Linked DNA regions of Homo sapiens: region 2 is linked to region 1. A link means that fine-mapping ties the variant in region 1 to the expression of a gene that starts in the linked region. Tissue or cell type: blood mononuclear cells. Region 1 holds a variant in brackets; the other region holds the start of a gene. All regions are shown on one strand. Distances are between the middles of the regions.

Evidence for each region. PIP is the estimated chance that this variant, and not a neighbour inherited with it, causes the effect.
Region 2: it holds the start of AP4E1, and the variant in region 1 is fine-mapped to the expression of AP4E1 in blood mononuclear cells (TOPMed, PIP above 0.99).

The regions. Positions count from the first base shown.
Region 1 is chr15:51,095,185-51,103,288 of GRCh38, forward strand. All of the region lies in intron 1 of MIR4713HG (MIR4713 host gene), which reads left to right. LOC124903491 (a long non-coding RNA gene) reads left to right here. Exons shown (of 2, transcript XR_007064631.1): 2 at 605-1,298. It also overlaps a transcript of TNFAIP8L3 not described here. Among named protein-coding and RNA genes, the nearest start is that of TNFAIP8L3, 4.3 kb to the left of the region's middle. The variant G/A (reference allele first, on the strand shown) is at 3,527.
Region 2 is chr15:50,904,989-50,913,080 of GRCh38, forward strand. It overlaps AP4E1 (adaptor related protein complex 4 subunit epsilon 1), which reads left to right and starts at 3,695. Exons shown (of 21, transcript NM_007347.5): 1 at 3,695-3,940; 2 at 7,090-7,161. The coding sequence starts at 3,791. RefSeq lists enhancers at 3,288-4,029, 3,504-3,793, 3,814-3,983, 4,030-4,771.

The sequences.
Region 1 (8,104 bases):
GTGTTTGTTTTCTCACTAGGAAGATGAGGGAAGGGGGGCGGGGAATAAGGGAAGGGGAGCGGGGAATAAGGGAAGGGAGCGGGGAATAAGGGAAGGGGGCGGGGTGGGGGGAGATGACAGTTGGACTGTTGTGGAAAGTAGTAAGACAAGGCGTGTGCGGGACCGAGCGCTGGGCCTGGCACCTAGTGACGAAGTAAACACACAGGCAGGTAATGCTAACTCCGGCTGTTTGAGTCTTCTGCCAGCGAGGGCAGGGCAGGTGGGGCAAGCGGTGGTGAAGCGGGTTCCGGGGGCTCGGTGAGTCTGAACACTGGCTCGCCTGGAAGGTTGGAGCCACCCTGCCAATCAAGCAGCCGTGCTATTTCGCGCCCTCGACTAGAGGGGCCAGAATTAATTTTAAAAGCTTTTCTTTGTTGATGGGATTAAACACAGAGTGCTAAACTTCCGTAACACCATCCTTTATGAAAGGAAAAAAAAAAGCATTTGTAAACCTATTTACTAATTAAGAGCCCAAACGAGGGGGGAAATGCACGGAGCACCGAGGCCTTTTTTGTTGTTGTTAATTCTTGGTTATCTATATGCTCTTATTGCCTCCCTATTATAGGCTCCTACACTCACAAAGCCTCAAGCTGGGTTCTCTGCTTGTAAAGTCTGCCCAGAGAATGCAAATTATTGGCCAGAGCAAAAGAAAATCAAGAAGAAAAAGTCTGCTAAAAAGCGCCACTTACTGAACATTTCCCTTTGTGTCCTCATCTAATCTGTACAATGACCCAGTGAAGAATTTAGGTTGCACCATTTGAAAATACTTTTTGGAAGTAGAATATGGTTGAAAGTTGGCAAGTTCATAGAATTCAACTTATTTTCATTCCCATTTTACAGATGGGAAAAGTCTCAGAGACAGCAGATGATGTCCCTGTGGTCTCAGGTCGTCCAGTAGGTGGGTGAACTGGGACTTGAAATCAGGTCTGATGTCCAGATCTGCTCCTGACTGCTATGGTACAGTGTCATAAGTGAGTTTTGGCTTCTGGTCTACCTGAAGGCTGCCGTCTTTAGTGAAGTGTGGGCTTAACAGAGTGCAAATACCACTCTACTTTGTGTTTTCAGAAAACAAAGGATGGCCAAGCTCATGGACTCTAGTGATACAAGTTGGATGGATATTGATGAAATGGTCAAAAGAGCCCCACAGTGGATGTGTTATCTTGGGCAAATGGCTAAACCTCTCTCGGTTTCCTCAAGTGTTGGTGTCTCCTTCATAGGGTGTTTGTAAATAAATGAAATAATGAGTATGAAAGCTATTACCCAATGCCTGGCACACAGTGAATGTTTGATAACTGGAAAGAACACTAATTTTTAGATTGAATGGATCCCATTTAGAAAAACAAAATATTTTAGAGTTGCATTTTTTAATGAAAAGAAAAAAGTGGGGGCCGGGCACGGTGGCTCACGCCTGTAATCCCAGCACTTTGGGAAACTGAGGCGGGTGGATCACCTGAGGTCGGGAGTTTGAGACCAGCCTGACCAACATGGAGAAACTCTGTCTCGACTAAAAACACAAAATTAGCCAGGTGTGGTGGTGCATGCCTGTAATCACTGCTACTCGGGAGGCTGAGGCAGGAGAATCGCTTGAACCCAGGAGGCGGAAGTTGCAGTGAGCCGAGATCGTGCCATTGCACTCCAGCCTGGGCAACAAGAGCAACACGCTGTCTCAAAAAAAAAAAAAAAAAAAAAGAAAGAAAGAAAAAAGTAATGGCAAAATTTGGATACAAGATGATACTCGAAAAACAAATAGCTGGGATCATTTAAAAAGTTTGCCATAATAGCTTTTCAGTTATAAGGTAAAACAACAATGATAGCTTCACAGAACAGAGCATATGGGATTCAAAAGGCATTCAGCTTCCTCTAAAGGTTGTGCCTAGATTCAATAACAGGAAATGTGAAACTTTCCCTGTTTCCTTAGACCTCCTTTCCTTGCACTTCATGGAAGCTTTTTTGGTTTTGCTTTTGTTTTAATGGACAGGTAGCCTGGGTTGCAGTGTGAGGGAGACAGACCACAGAGACATGTATGAATAACAGCAAAAAGGAAACAGAGAAGCTACTGGAATTTGATCAACAGTAAACAATGTACTGAGAACACACATTTACAACACATGTATGCTCATCAGTCGTCAGGTCTTCATTAAGTATCTAGCACATTTTGACCCAGAGATAAATGCTTTGGGCATGGGGGGGAGAGAAAGAACTGGTCAAGGTATCCTGAAAAGTCTTTGAGTGAAGTTCTTAGATAATGCCTATTCATTTACCTGCTCCTATATTCATTCATAGTATATTTCTGCTAAACGAGGCAGACATAGAATGAAAAATTGAATTGAATGTGGAATTAGACAATGGGGAAGAGAGATCCAAACTAAACAAGGTCTCGATTCCAATTTCCTATGATGTACAATCTGTTGTCATGGGACAGCAAGACAAAGGGAAATGACTACTGGCATGCGTGTGAGTTTAATGAGGAACATTAGTGGAACATACCTTATCTCTCCTCCCAGTATGGAAAAATCTGTGTAAGAGAAGGAAGTCCTTAAAATAGTATCCTATGACCATCAACCCCACTAAAACAGTGAAATCTGAGGTGGTGAATCTCCTTTTACAAACCAGTTCTGATATATTTCTTGTGGGGGGGGAAAAACTCTTAAGAAAGAGAAAAAGGGAAAGGGTTTCTGTAGTTCCTCTGTATATTTTTAGAAAAATGGCATCACTTTGCAGACTTGAATCTAGAGTCTGAGGGTTATAAGCCACCTTCCTCAGTGTTTCCACTACATCTTTTCAGCCTGGCAGCTCTTCAGATATACGAGTTTCTACCACTCATTGGTCATTTCTTAACTAGAGTGAACAAAATTGTTGGCTTTTTAAGGAAATTGCCTGTCTGGTGGGTAAAGCGTATCTATTTGTAAGGTGTCAAGAAACAGATAATAAAATAGATCCATTTCTGCTAACACAATAATACTCCTTTAATCTGAGCCAGTGCTATGACTCATCTGCCTGTCTCCTCTTGTGGGATGGAAAGGGAGCTGTCTGCAAACCTTCAGCAGTGGGAGGAGGGAAGGAGATACTTTTCACACGCTAGGACTGCTGCTCTGCTTTGAAAACCCACCAGCTCTAGAACCGCTGTTTTCTGTAGGCTGAAGTGGCCTTTGGTCCTTAGAGGTGAAAGGTTGGCCCTATTTTTAATCATTTGTCTCAAGGTAGACTTTGGTCCCAAGGAAGCTTCTACCCAGAGCTGAGGGGGCCTCCATGGGACTGTAGGTAAGCTGGAGAGCAGGGTCCAAGCTAGCTTGATATCCATCTAACAGAACATGGTGCTAGAAGACAGCCTTGAGAAAGGGAGCTTTCCTATTTCTTTCTTGCCAGTAAAAATAAGCTTTTATTTGTCTCCCCTCTTATTTAAAAAGTAATGCAGATTACTAGAAAAATTGGAAAATACATATAAACAAAAAAGAATATAAATTAATTCGTAATTTTACTAATTGCA[G/A]TCACGGTTAACATATCTTTTGAGAAGTTTCCTTCTGTGTGTGTACAGTATTCTGCTTTTGTAAATTGCTTTTTCCTTTTAACAATATGTTGTGAACATCATTTCATCTACTCTTTGATAACATGATTTTTAATAGCTGTACAATATTCTACTGGATGAGTATACCATATGTATTTAAACAATCCTCTATTGTTGAGCAGTTAGGTTGTTTCCAATTTTCTGCTATAATAGCATCAATCAATATCCTCGTGTCTAAATCTTTGCACACATCATTAATCAATGCCTGTGAACTTTCAGCCTCCTTCGTTTTCCTTGGGAGAGAGAAACAAGAAAGAAAATTGCAACTAACAAAATAATTGCTGTATATATCCCAAGACTTTAAGGTTATCAAGAATTTTCATGGGTATAATCTCCACTAGGCAGCAGGTGGGTTATTTGAGTTCATTCTTGCATTTGTCCAGCATCAGTTGAGCCCAGAGGAGGTTTAGGAGAAGAATGCAAAGTTTCCTTCCACACTTTCTTTGTGGGCAGTGTGTCCTCTGCACAGCCCCATCCAAGTCCAGACCCCTTGTAGGAGGCAGAGGGTGGATGAGGCTGGCAACTTTGGCATCCAGCTGTTCTCCTGGGTTCTTAGCTTCTGCTTCCTGAGCTGCCAGCAGGATAGCTTTCTTGGTGGTTAATGCAATTATAGTGACTCAAAAGCACTGATACAAAGGGAGAGGGAAATTGAGAAGGAGAAAGGGAGAAGAGAAAGAGAGAGAGAGAAGAAAACTCTATGGGCCCAACCTCTGTTGTGCCCTAGCCCAACCCTATGGGGTTATTTATAAGCCCTTTAAATAGCAGCACCAGGATCTTAGGTTCACTGAGAGCCTCCCTGATCACACATGGTGTGTGATCTCACTTGTGGCATTCATTTTGGCTATGGGATGTGACTCCACTGCTGCATGAGAGCTGTTCTTACAAGCATCTACACAGCTTGTATGTGGGTACCCTAAGTGACTGTTGAGCTCTGCCCAGTGCCTTCCCATATTCCTGGATCCTTACACAGCTTTGTGGCATAGAAAAGGTCAGTATTATTCCCACAGGAGAGAAGACGGAATCAAGACCCATGAGGTTTCAGCGGCAACTAGAGTCTTTGTGGTTTTCAGGATGATAGGAAAGTACCCAAAGACTGGGTGGGGCAATGTTACCCCAGTTCTCAAAGGGAAGAAAGGAGTTGATTCCGGAAATAACCAATTGATGAGTTTTTTGTTGCTGTCTAGCAAAAATCTGAAACAAACAGGTTTATAAATGGTTAAAGAAGAGAATGGTGATCACCAGCAGCCAACATGGGTTCCTTACCATGTCCTGCTAAAATAACCATGTTAACTTTCTTTAAACAGAGTCATGAAGTATATAAATCAAGATAATTTTATTTGACTTGGGATGTATCAAGTATTTGTTGAGTATCCTCTGTGTTTCAGGTGCAAAATGAAGGGAAGTGACTGTCACAGATACCATATGTTGTGATTTAAGTTTTGAGGAGGTCTTACACAGTTTCCTTGCTGCTAGGTGGATCTGGAGTAGGTTGAACAATCCTACCCAGTGAGCTTTGATTCATGGCTTTGAGTTACCTAGGAAGGAGGTATCCAGTGGAGTGACACAGAGCTCTGCCCTTGGCTCTAGTTTATTCTACTTATTTTTTTTTTTTAAAGACAACAACAAGAGTAGTGATTTAGAGAAAGAATTTGATGCTTGTGCTTATCAATGGTATAGATTACCATACTAACACAGGTAAGAGAAGACAAAATCATATGGGAAAGACATGTGGGTCTTAGTTGTCCATAAGAGCAACATGAGTCAACAGTGGGATAATAGCTGTATTGCTACAATAAGGGCAGGAATAGTTCTTCTGTATTGGAGCTAGTCTTACAGACACCTGGGGTCTTATGAACATCTGGTGCCACATTTTAAGAAGACATATCAGGGATCTCCCCAAGGTGGGGGAATCAAGATGATGAAAGAGGTTTGGAAACCATTCTGTATGAGAAAGTTTGAATGTCAGGCTGGAGAAGGAAAAAAAACAAACAAACAAGGCATGACTGGATGGATGTCCTTAAATGTGTAGAGACTTAGATTCTAGGCTGATGTGGGACTAATGGATAAAAGTTATAAGAAGGGAGAATTTGGATCTTGTGCCAGTCCTGGCCTGCCTGTCCTTGCCCTTTCCATCCTCTGTATGGAAAAGGGGCTGACCCCTACAGGCTGCATTTGCCGGGCCCCTGTACTAGCTGTTTTCTAGCTGGATACAGCCAGTGGGAGGCACTGGCAGAAGATGGGCAGGTCAGGGAAGGAATATTCTCCCCTATCCTCTATCCCTTAATCTTGGCACCTTTGACAATTGCTATATCTCCTCTGTGACTCCAGCTCCTACCAAATGGACCTGCTGTGGTTCCAGCTTTCATGAGGTGACCCCAACCCCTTGGCTCCAGTAACAGCACCTCCTCCCTTTCGTCCTTCAGCCCAGGGTGGCAGTGACTTCCTGCTGCTGCTAATGCCTAGATTACCTCACTATCCTCTGTTTGGCTTCTCAGACCTGTGTAGCCAGTTACCTGCATTGCATGATCTCCTTTGAAAATATGTAAAATAGTGCGGGGCGTGGTGGCTCACGCCTGTAATCCCAGCAGTTTCGGAGGCCAAGACAGGCGGATCACCTGAGGTCAAGAGTTCGAGACCAGCCTGATCAACATGAAGAAACCCTGTCTCTACTAAAAATACAAAATTAGCCCAGCGTGGTGGTGCATGCCTATAATCCCAGCTACTCGGGAGGCTGAGGCAGGAGAATCATTTGAACCCGGGAGGTTGAGGTTGCAGTTAGCTGAGATCCCGCCATTGCCCTCCAGCCTGGGCAACAAGAGCAAAACTCTGTCTCAAACAAAAAAAAAAAAGAAAGAAAGAAAGACAGAAAATATGTAGGCTGGGCGCCGTGGCTGAAGCCTGTAATCCCAGCACTTTGGGAGGCCAAGGTGGGCGGATCATGAGGTCAGGAGATCGAGACCATCCTGGCTAACACAGTGAAACCCCATCTCTACTGAAGATACAAAAAATTAGCGAGGCGTGATGGCGGGCGCCTGTAGTCCCAGCTACTCGGGAGGCTGAGGCAAGAGAATGGCGTGAACCTGGGAGGTGGAGCTTGCAGTGAGCTGAGATTGCGCCACTGCACTCCAGCCTGGGCGACAGAGCAAGACTCTGTCTCAAAAAAAAAAAAAAAAAAAGAAAAGAAAAAGAAAAGAAAATAAGTAAAATATTTTCCTAGTTAGACCTCATTGATACAGACATGTACCAGTGGTACAGGAATAAGAAAGTGTTTTTTAATGATTACAACTAGATGACCATGGGTAGGGGTATTGTGGGAGGCTGGAGTCCACGACTTTTTGGATTCCTTTGGAAACTGAGACATGGAAAGGAAATGATGTGTCCAAGTCCTGGGAGTGGCAGAGCTGAGACTAGAACTCAAGGCTCCTATTCCCCAGACAGGCATGCTTTCATCTGATGCTGACTCTCCTCCTGCGCATGTCTTTAAAAGTATCCTCTCGTGGTTTATGTTAATCATCCTTCTGATCTATGGAAGGGAAAATTGAGTCTCCTAAATTTGTTTTTTTCTTTTAATTCTCTCATGTTTATGTGACAACCCAGTTCAATAATGCTTACTCACTAATTATTTTACAGAACAAATATCGCTCGCCAAGTGTTGAGTGGAACCTTTTGTTCCTCCCTTCAAAGCATTTTCTACTTAGAAAAGCTAAATACATGTTCCAATCTGGAAGGTTCCATTTATGTAAGTCTCTGATTTCATAACATCTACACCCAGTCGAGGGCTGTAGAAGGGGGAAGAAATGTTCAAGGTCACCTGGTCTAACCCCATCACTTTAGATATGAAGAAATAAATCTAGAAAGGTGAAGTGGTTTGCCCAGAGTTAAGAACAAATGGGACCAGAACCCATGTCTCTGGCCCTATTTCAGGATTTCCCATCATATTACCATGCTCCTTTATAGCCCTTCTACTCCAGCCCAGGACAGCAGTGACTTCCTGCTACTTCCTTTACTACATCCAGTTTTCATTTGGTTTCCACCCTCACTTCCCAAATCTCTCTCCCCATTACTGATCTTTCCTCTCCTTTTACCTCCTGTACACCAGTGTTCTACTAGACCATATACATCTGGAGTGGAATTAACAAAAGCAGGACTTGACCAATGCCTCTTTTCAATTTCTTTATCTTATCAAAGACTCTCTCCCCTCTCCTCCCCTTCTCTTCCCTCAGCTTCCCTCCATCTCCTCCCCTTTCCCTTCCCTTTTCTTCTTTTCTGGGTCTTCAAACTTTCCATTCCTCTCTTCTATCTATCCAACATTTTCTTTCCCGCCAAGTCTTCTCTTGGCATTGTCCTTAAACGGATCCCTCCCTTCGGTGTTCAAAGCAATCTGCCTGGTTGAAGCTATCAACCCTTCTAAAAGAGGAATCTTCCATGCCTGGTTGCCATAAGCCTTTGCTCATTCTCTGAGGAGGCATAAGTTAATGTTATCCCTTAGTAAGACACCTG
Region 2 (8,092 bases), 190 kb before region 1:
CTATTGCATGTCCTTCTCCTATCAATGAAATATAATAATTTCATGTGTAAGATGCTTCAGTAGGTTTTTCATTTTTACTTTGAAAATGGTAATACAAAAGCTTTGGCTTTTATAAAGCATATCATCTCTATGTTGAAAGTATTAAATTCCCTTTCTTTTAAATTCTGACTGGTCTGAAAATGATGCCTCAACTTGATTGGCACCATAATAGTATTTGAAAATGTTCTGTTGAATGACATAAAATAAGGCAAGTGATTAACATCTCTAATGCCAAGGGAAAGAAAGAAGCTTTTGTCATACTTTCCTTTGTTATTTATAGTTTCGACCAGATTTCTCCCTTTCCCTGAGTCAGTGAATTCTGATACTGATGTCAGCTTCATCTTTTTCGGCATCTTTACAGACGGGAAGGTTAGAAAGCGAATCTTCTAGTATCCCCTTTTTAAGCCAATGGAAGAACCTAAAATTAAAAAACTATACATAAAACAAAATTTAATTTAAAGATAAAATATTAAATTCCTTTTTTTTTTGGAGACAGAGTCTTGCTCTGTCACCCAGGCTGGAGTACAGTGGTGCGATCTTGGCTCACTGCAACCTTCGCCTCCTAGGTTCAAGCAATTCTCCTGCCTCAGCTTCCCAAGTAGTTGGGACTACAGGTGTGCCACCATGCCCGGCTAAATTTTTTGTATTTTTTTTTTTTTGAGGTGGAGTCTTGCTCTGTCGCCCACGCTGGAGTGCAGTGGTGAAATCTCGGCTCACTGCAACCTCCGCCTCCCGGGTCCCAGCAATTCTCCTGCCTCAGCCTCCCGAGTAGCTGGGATTACGGGCGCACGCCACCATGCCCGGCTAATTTCTGTATTTTTTTAGTAGAGTCATAGGTTGGCCAGGCTGGTCTTGATATCCTGACCTTGTGGTCTGTGCACCTTGGCCTCCCAAAGTGCTGTGATTACAGGTGGGAGCCACCGTGCCTGTCCGAATATTTTGTATTTTTAGTAGAGACGGGGTTTCACCATGTTGGCCAGGTTGGTCTGGAACTCCTGAGCTCAGACAATCTGCCCGCCTTGGCCTCCCAAAGTGCTAGAATATAGGCATAAACCACCGCGCCCGGACGACAAAATATTAAATTCTAGGCAGGGCGTGGTGGCTCACACCTGTAATCCCAGCACTTTGAGTGGCTGAGGCGGGCAGATCATGAGGTCAGGAGACCGAGGCCATCCTGGCCAACGTGGTGAAACCACATCTCTACTAAAAATACAAAAAATTAGCCGGGTGTGGTGGCACGCACCTGTAATCCCAGCTACTCGGGAGGCTGAGGCAGGAGAACTGCTTGAACCTGGGAGGCGGAGGTTGCAGTGGGCCGAGATCACACCACTGCACTCCATCCTGGGCAACAGAGCGAGACACCATCTCAAAAAATAATAATAAAATAACAAAATTAAATTCTAAAAGAGTATCCCTTTCTGGCTGGGCGCAGTGGCTCGCGCTTGTAATCCCAGCACTTTGGGAGGCTGAGGTGGGCGGATCACCTGAGGTCAGGAGTTCGAGACCAGCCTGGCCAAAATGGTGAAACTCTGTGTTTACTAAAAATACAAAAATTAGCCGGGCATGGTGGCGGGCGCCTGTAATCCCAGCTACTCGGGAGGCTGAGGCAGGAGAATTGCTTGAACCCAGGGGGAGGAGGCTGCAGTGAACCCAGATTGTGCCACTGCATTCCAGTCTGGGTGATAGAGCGAGACTCTGAAAAAAAAAAAATTAAATGAATAAATGAGTATCCCTTTTAGATAAAGTTTAAATATTTTAAAATGTTCTCAATATATTAAAAAATATTCTTGCGAGACAAGCCAACAAATTGAACTTTTTTCTTATGTTCCCATATAGGTATTAAAACAACTTCAGGATTTCAAAAAAACTCATTTATTAGGTGACAAGGAGGTTACAGAGATTAGAGCAGGTATAACCGAAGATAGCTTGTAAGTGTAGCTGTAGCTGGTGGGCCGGTTGAGGTTCTGGACTTCGCGGTGCAAAATAATTTTGAAGTCCAAAGTAAAAGCAAGCAAAAGAGTTTATTGCAAAGCGAAAGTACACCCTCACAGCTGATCAGAGCGGGCTGCTCAAAGGTGAGACAGCATGCACTGACACTGGGGAAACTCCCTTTGTAGGAGTCTCACAGGATCATTCATGAAGCGGGGAGAACGGGTGCTGCTATTAAGCACGTTCTCTGGTTTTCTGTCGCCATGTGCGCTGTGGTTGTATATGCTAGTACATACACTGCATGTCTTATTAGTATCTTAAATCTTCACCCAGGAGTGGTGTTTTTTTTTTTTTTTTTTTTTTACTATTATAATGAGTATAATTCAGCCCAACGACACTGATCATGGGTTTCTGCGCTTGTGAGAGTTTGGGGATTTTCCCTTCTGCTCTCGTACCTCTTTGCTGCAAAATTTTCTAACCAGGAGCCTCGGATGTGGTTTGTACACTATGGGCTGGTTTGTTCTATTTATTTAGCAAGTTTGTTCCCCTTGAAGGGAGGCTATCACCACCTACCTAACCTACCTCCTAGAAACACACTAGGAGTACTGAGAGCAAATTGCATTAATCTCTGAAAACGCACGTATTTATGCCCTAAACCTACTACCTTAGAAAATTCTAGAAAACACAAGGATACTCCAGGATACATTTTACCAGCTAGTCAATCGTCATCTAGCCGCTTGAAAACTCTGTACATTTCCAACAGAATGAGGGTAAAAACGGCAAATAACACGTAAGAAACGTTATCAATGTTGTTTTGACTTTGTGAATTCCCTAGAAGGGTCTCAGCGACCCTGAGGTCACCAGACCACATTTCGAGAGCCATTGTACCAGACTCTGTTCTAGATAAAAGACGGAGCAATCGGAATGAATAAAATACTCTCTCTATGGGGAGCTGTTTACGTAGTGGCAACTGCGACCTGTTCTAAAGTGGAACAGAACCGAGCGCTGTGAGAGGGTGGGACTTGGAGACCTATCCTTGCCCGCCGGGCCAGGGGAGTGGGCTCTAGAAGGATGACCTTTCAACTGCGACCTGCTGAGGAGGAGTCGGCAAGGGTGGCCGCCGACCAGTTCTCTTTCCCGCCCACCTCCCCAAATCCCAGGAGAAGAGGGGCGGACGGGAAGCGACAGTGGCCGCGAGTCCCCGGCACGCGACGGGCTCTCAACCTGGCACGCCGAATCCTCAGGACAGCCCCGCTATCACGCAACTACTCGGGTGTCCCAAGAGTCGCCAGGGCCGGAGCCGCGCGCGGCGCCGGGGACCCGCGTGAAACCGCCTGTGGGAAGCGGGCGGGTGGCGCGCGCTCCGGGGACAGTGAGAGGCGGCGGACGGCGCGGGGACGTCCCGAAAAAGGCGCAGCCAGGAAGACGCAACTCCTGACGCGGTCTCGGGCTACGCGGAGGCGGCTAGTGGGAAAGGGGGACTCTGGGAGACAGTGCCTAACAGGGCCAGGCCCCCGACGGCTTCCTCAGGAGGACTCACGGTTCTGGGGGATTCCGGAACCGCTACCCCGTCGCGAGAAAGGAGGTCTACTTACGCGCGCAATCTCGAGCGAGCGGCCTTTTCCACCCCCGCGGTCTCTTGCGCCCTCTGGTGGCCTCTCGCGAGAACGACGCTGAACTTGTTCAGGTGGGACGCCAATAAAGATTTCTTATTCAAAAAACAGGAAGTGCCTACGGAGGCCGGGCCGGCAGCGGCGGCCGGGCATGAAGCCGGGCGGCTACGGGATCGCGGGCGGCGGCGGCATCGCGGGCGGCGGCGGCGATGAGCGACATAGTGGAGAAGACGCTGACGGCGCTGCCGGGACTCTTTCTGCAGAACCAGCCCGGTGGTGGGCCCGCGGCCGCCAAGGCGTCCTTCTCCTCGAGGCTGGGCAGCCTTGTCCGCGGCATCACAGCCCTCACCTCCAAGCACGTAGGTGCCCGCCGGCCCGGGAGCTCAGGGACATCGGAGTGAGGCCCCCGCGCCAGGAGGCCCTGGCCGGGCGGCGAGACTTCAGGGCCTCTGGGGTTAGCCCTCCGGCGGGGCTCAGGGGCTGCTGTGTCGGTTCGTCCTTTCGTCTGCCTGGAAGCTTCACTTTCCTGCTGGGACTGACAGCAGGGAAGCCGAGTTTCCACAGTTAGTTCTGACACTGACTCTTTGATCGGGGGCACATCTCTGTAACCTCTGAGCCTCCGTGTGTTTTCTCAACGTTGTGGTGGAAAAGTACTGATACATAATTCATAGGTTTTTTGTTTGTTTTGAGGATTGGGTGAGATGTCAAGCGTGTGAAAATACCTAGTGCGATGGAAGTGTCAGACATTATTTACCTTCCACAAAGTTTTTTTTCCCTACTCAGTTTCCTTCTCTCCCCCGGTGCCTTCAACTGAACAACAGTTCAGATGTCGCATACCTGAAGAGATCCTGTGAGCCTCTTGTTGAATATCTTTGGGGAGCTTGAGGTTCTTGGGTTACAACAACGTGTTGGGCAAAGAAAAAGCACAGTTCTCTCAAAATGTAAAATTTGCTAAGTCTCTGCCTCAAGTGGGCTTTGAAAATGAGCAGTTATAAAAATTCTTAAACTTTTAAAATTTTTAAATTTTTATTGACGGAGTCTCTCTCTGTCGCCCAGGCTGGAGTGCAATGGTGCGATCTCGATCTCGGCTCGCTGGAGCCTTAAGGTTTTAAAAATTTTAATTTTTGTTTTTTTTTGAGACGGAGTCTCGCTCTGTCGCGCAGGCTGGAGTGCAGTGGCGCGATCTGGGCTCACTACAAGCTCCGCCTTCCGGGTTCACGCCATTCTCCTGCCTCAGCTTCCCGAGTAGCTGGGACTACAAGTGCCCGCCACTGCCTGGCTAATTTTTTGTACTTTTCGTAGAGACGGGGTTTCACCGTGTTAGCGAGGATGGTCTCGATCTCCTGACCTCGCGATCCGCCCGCCTTGGCGTCCCAAAGTGTTGGGATTACGTGCGTGAGCTACCCTGCCCGGCCTTAAAATTTTTAAATTTTTAATGACGGAGTCTCGCTCTGTCGCCCAGGCTGGAGTGCGATGGTGCGATCTTGGCTCACTGGAGCGTCTGCCTCCCGGGTTCAAGCGATTCTCCTGCCTCAGCCTCCCAAGTAGCTGGGATTATAGGCGTATGCCACTACGCCCGGCTAATTTTTGTATTTTTAGTAGAGACAGGATTTCACCATGTTGGGCAGGCTGGTCTTGAACTGACCTCAAGTGTTCGCTCACTTCGGCCTCCCAAAGTGCTGGGATTACAGGCATGAGCCACCGCGCCGGGCCCCCACAGGCGCTCGATGGTTGCACGGATTGTGTAGTATACCGATTCACAGCTACAAGGAGTTTATATCTTAAAAAGAGCACGTGTTAATGTCATTATTTGTTCAACAGATGTTTATGGAACAAGGTTATGTGTTAGACACAGGAAAATAGAATTAAACACATTCCCTTTTCCCAAGGAATTAGTCATTCGTTTTGGGCTTAAGACAAGTATAAGCATGACTACAATGCAATAGAAGTGCTAAAAGAGAAGGAAAGACAGAAAAGAAAGTGCTCTGAAGGTTTAAAAAAAATATTTTTTTGGCAGCTCTAATAAGTTGATGCTATCCGGAGAGAACCTGCTTCACATTCCAGAATCATTACTTGTGGGCTTGTCTTGTTTTGTTTTGTTTTTGAGATGGAGTCTCACTCTGTCGCCCAGGCTGGAATGCAGTGGTGCAATCTTGGCTCACTGCAACTTCTGCTTCCTGGGTTCAAGTGATTCTTCTGCCTCAGCCTCCCTGGTAGCTGGGATTACAGGCACACGTCACCATACCCGGCTAATTTTTATATTTTTAGTAGAGACAGGGTTTCGCCATGTTGGCCAGGCTGGTCTTGAACTCCTGACCTCAGGTAATCCACCTGCCTTGGCCTTGGCCTCCCAAAGTGCTGGGATTACAGGCGTGAGCCACCACGCCTGGCCATTTGTGGCCTTAATAATGTTGTTTTTCTTAAGGTTTTTGTCCTTTGCTAATTTTTAAGGGATCCTCAATAAAATTTTTTAAAAAGTTATTTTTGGTCTTAAATAGCAGTTTGAAACTGTAGATAGGCATCCACGTGTATCAGTACGTCACTAGTGGCTTTTGAATAGCCATCTGATGAACATGTAATTCAGTGTGTAATTTAAAGGTAGCATGATATTAGCCAAAAAAAAATGGGGCCAATTTTTTAAGTGCTTAGGGAGATAACATACAATGCAGACAGTAGGAGTGACCACATTGGTATGTGTCTGAGATAGGAAGTTATGGAAAGGATTTGGGGAATGAGGAAAAGACAGGGAAGAAGAATGTAGTTTAAGGGAAAAAGACCTATTTCTGTTTCTGCTTTCTTACCCTGTTTCTTAATTCCATGAAGACTTTTTACTTCTAAGGGGAAGATGTGAGATGAGACTCTTTTCTTGGGCCAATACATGGAGAATTTCTACTCTCTCTCCACCTTTAATTTTTTTTTTTTTTTTTTTTTTAGATGGAGTCTTGCTCTGTTACCCAGGCTGGAGTGCAGTGGTACGATCTCGGCTCACTGCAACATTCACTTCCCGGGTTCAAGCGATTCTCCTGCCCCTGCCTCAGCCTCTCGAGTATCTGGGATTACAGGACCCCCAGCTAATGTTTGTATTTTTAGTAGGGACGGGGTTTTGCCATGTTGGCCAGGCTGGTCTCAAACTGCTGACCTCAAGTGATTCACTCGCCTTGGCCTCCCAAAGTGCTGGGATTACAGGCATGAGCTGTTGTGCCCGGCTTCCACCTTTAGTTTTAAAAAAAAACATTTTCTGCTATTCTACCATTAAGGGGAAGTAACTGAGTAAAGAAAAGAGGAAGGATGGGTTAGCCTGGAAATATTTATTCTCTCCAGGGATGGTTCTGAGGTTTGGAGAAATGCCTTTAGATAGATCGTAAGCAGATAGTATTTGTAACTCTCCTTTAAAATAATGTTTCTTTTAAATTAAAAGTATTGTAAATTATATTTTTCCGTTTAGATAAATGCTGTTACAGTTTTAAAAGACAGTTAATCAAGCATTTAAATATTTTCACTTTCTCAGGAAGAAGAAAAATTAATCCAGCAGGAACTGAGTAGTCTGAAAGCGACTGTTTCTGCTCCTACTACAACACTGGTAGGTTTGCATAGTCAGTGCCAACACATTTGAATTTGAAATCTAGTCACTGTGGACTCAATAGTGGCATCTAACTGATGATCGGTTGCTAAAATTTGATTTATCATAGTCAAAATGAATTATAGTTGGTAGCAACTCAGATGTTAACTTTAGCCTTTTATTGTTGACTGGTTTGCACCAGAACAAGATTTGCCTATGTGAAGTCAGGGCTAATGTGATGATGATTACATAAATGTGGAGATACTCTTGGGACCCTAGTGCTGATCTGATGTTTTTAATGTTATGCATTTGGAAAAGGTTGGGATTTCAACATGATATTTTCAGACCTGAATTAATATATTGTAGGTATATCTAATTTTATTATTTAAGACCTAGTTGTTTTTAAAGTTTGTTCTACATAATCTGATTTTTCAAACAATATTCAGCAACTATTTAATGAATGGTCATTCATTATTATGCAGGCCACTGTGGGGCTGTCCCAGCATAGCTAGATTAAAACTCAGTTTGATTTTTTTTTTTTTTTTTTGAGACGGAGTCTCGCTCTGTTGCCCAAGCTGGAGTGCAGTGGCGTGGCGTGATCTCAGCTCACTGCAACCTCTGCCTCCTGGATTCAACCGATTCTCCTGCCTCAGCCTCCTGAGTAACTGGGACTACAGGTGCCCGCCACCATGCCTGGCTAATTTTTGTATTTTTAGTAGAGTTGGGGTTTTCATCATGTTGACCAGGCTAGTATCGCACTCCTGACCTCAAGCGATCCACCCACCTCAGCCTCCTAAATCAAAGTACTAGGATTACAGGTGTGAGCCACCGTGCCTGGCCTGATTTTTTTTTAAATGAGATTTTGTTTCAAGCAACATATCTTCAGCAAATATTTGGTGAGTGTCTTCAGTATATAAGCCACTGTGGGAATGTTTTCCCTCCCTGCCAGTAA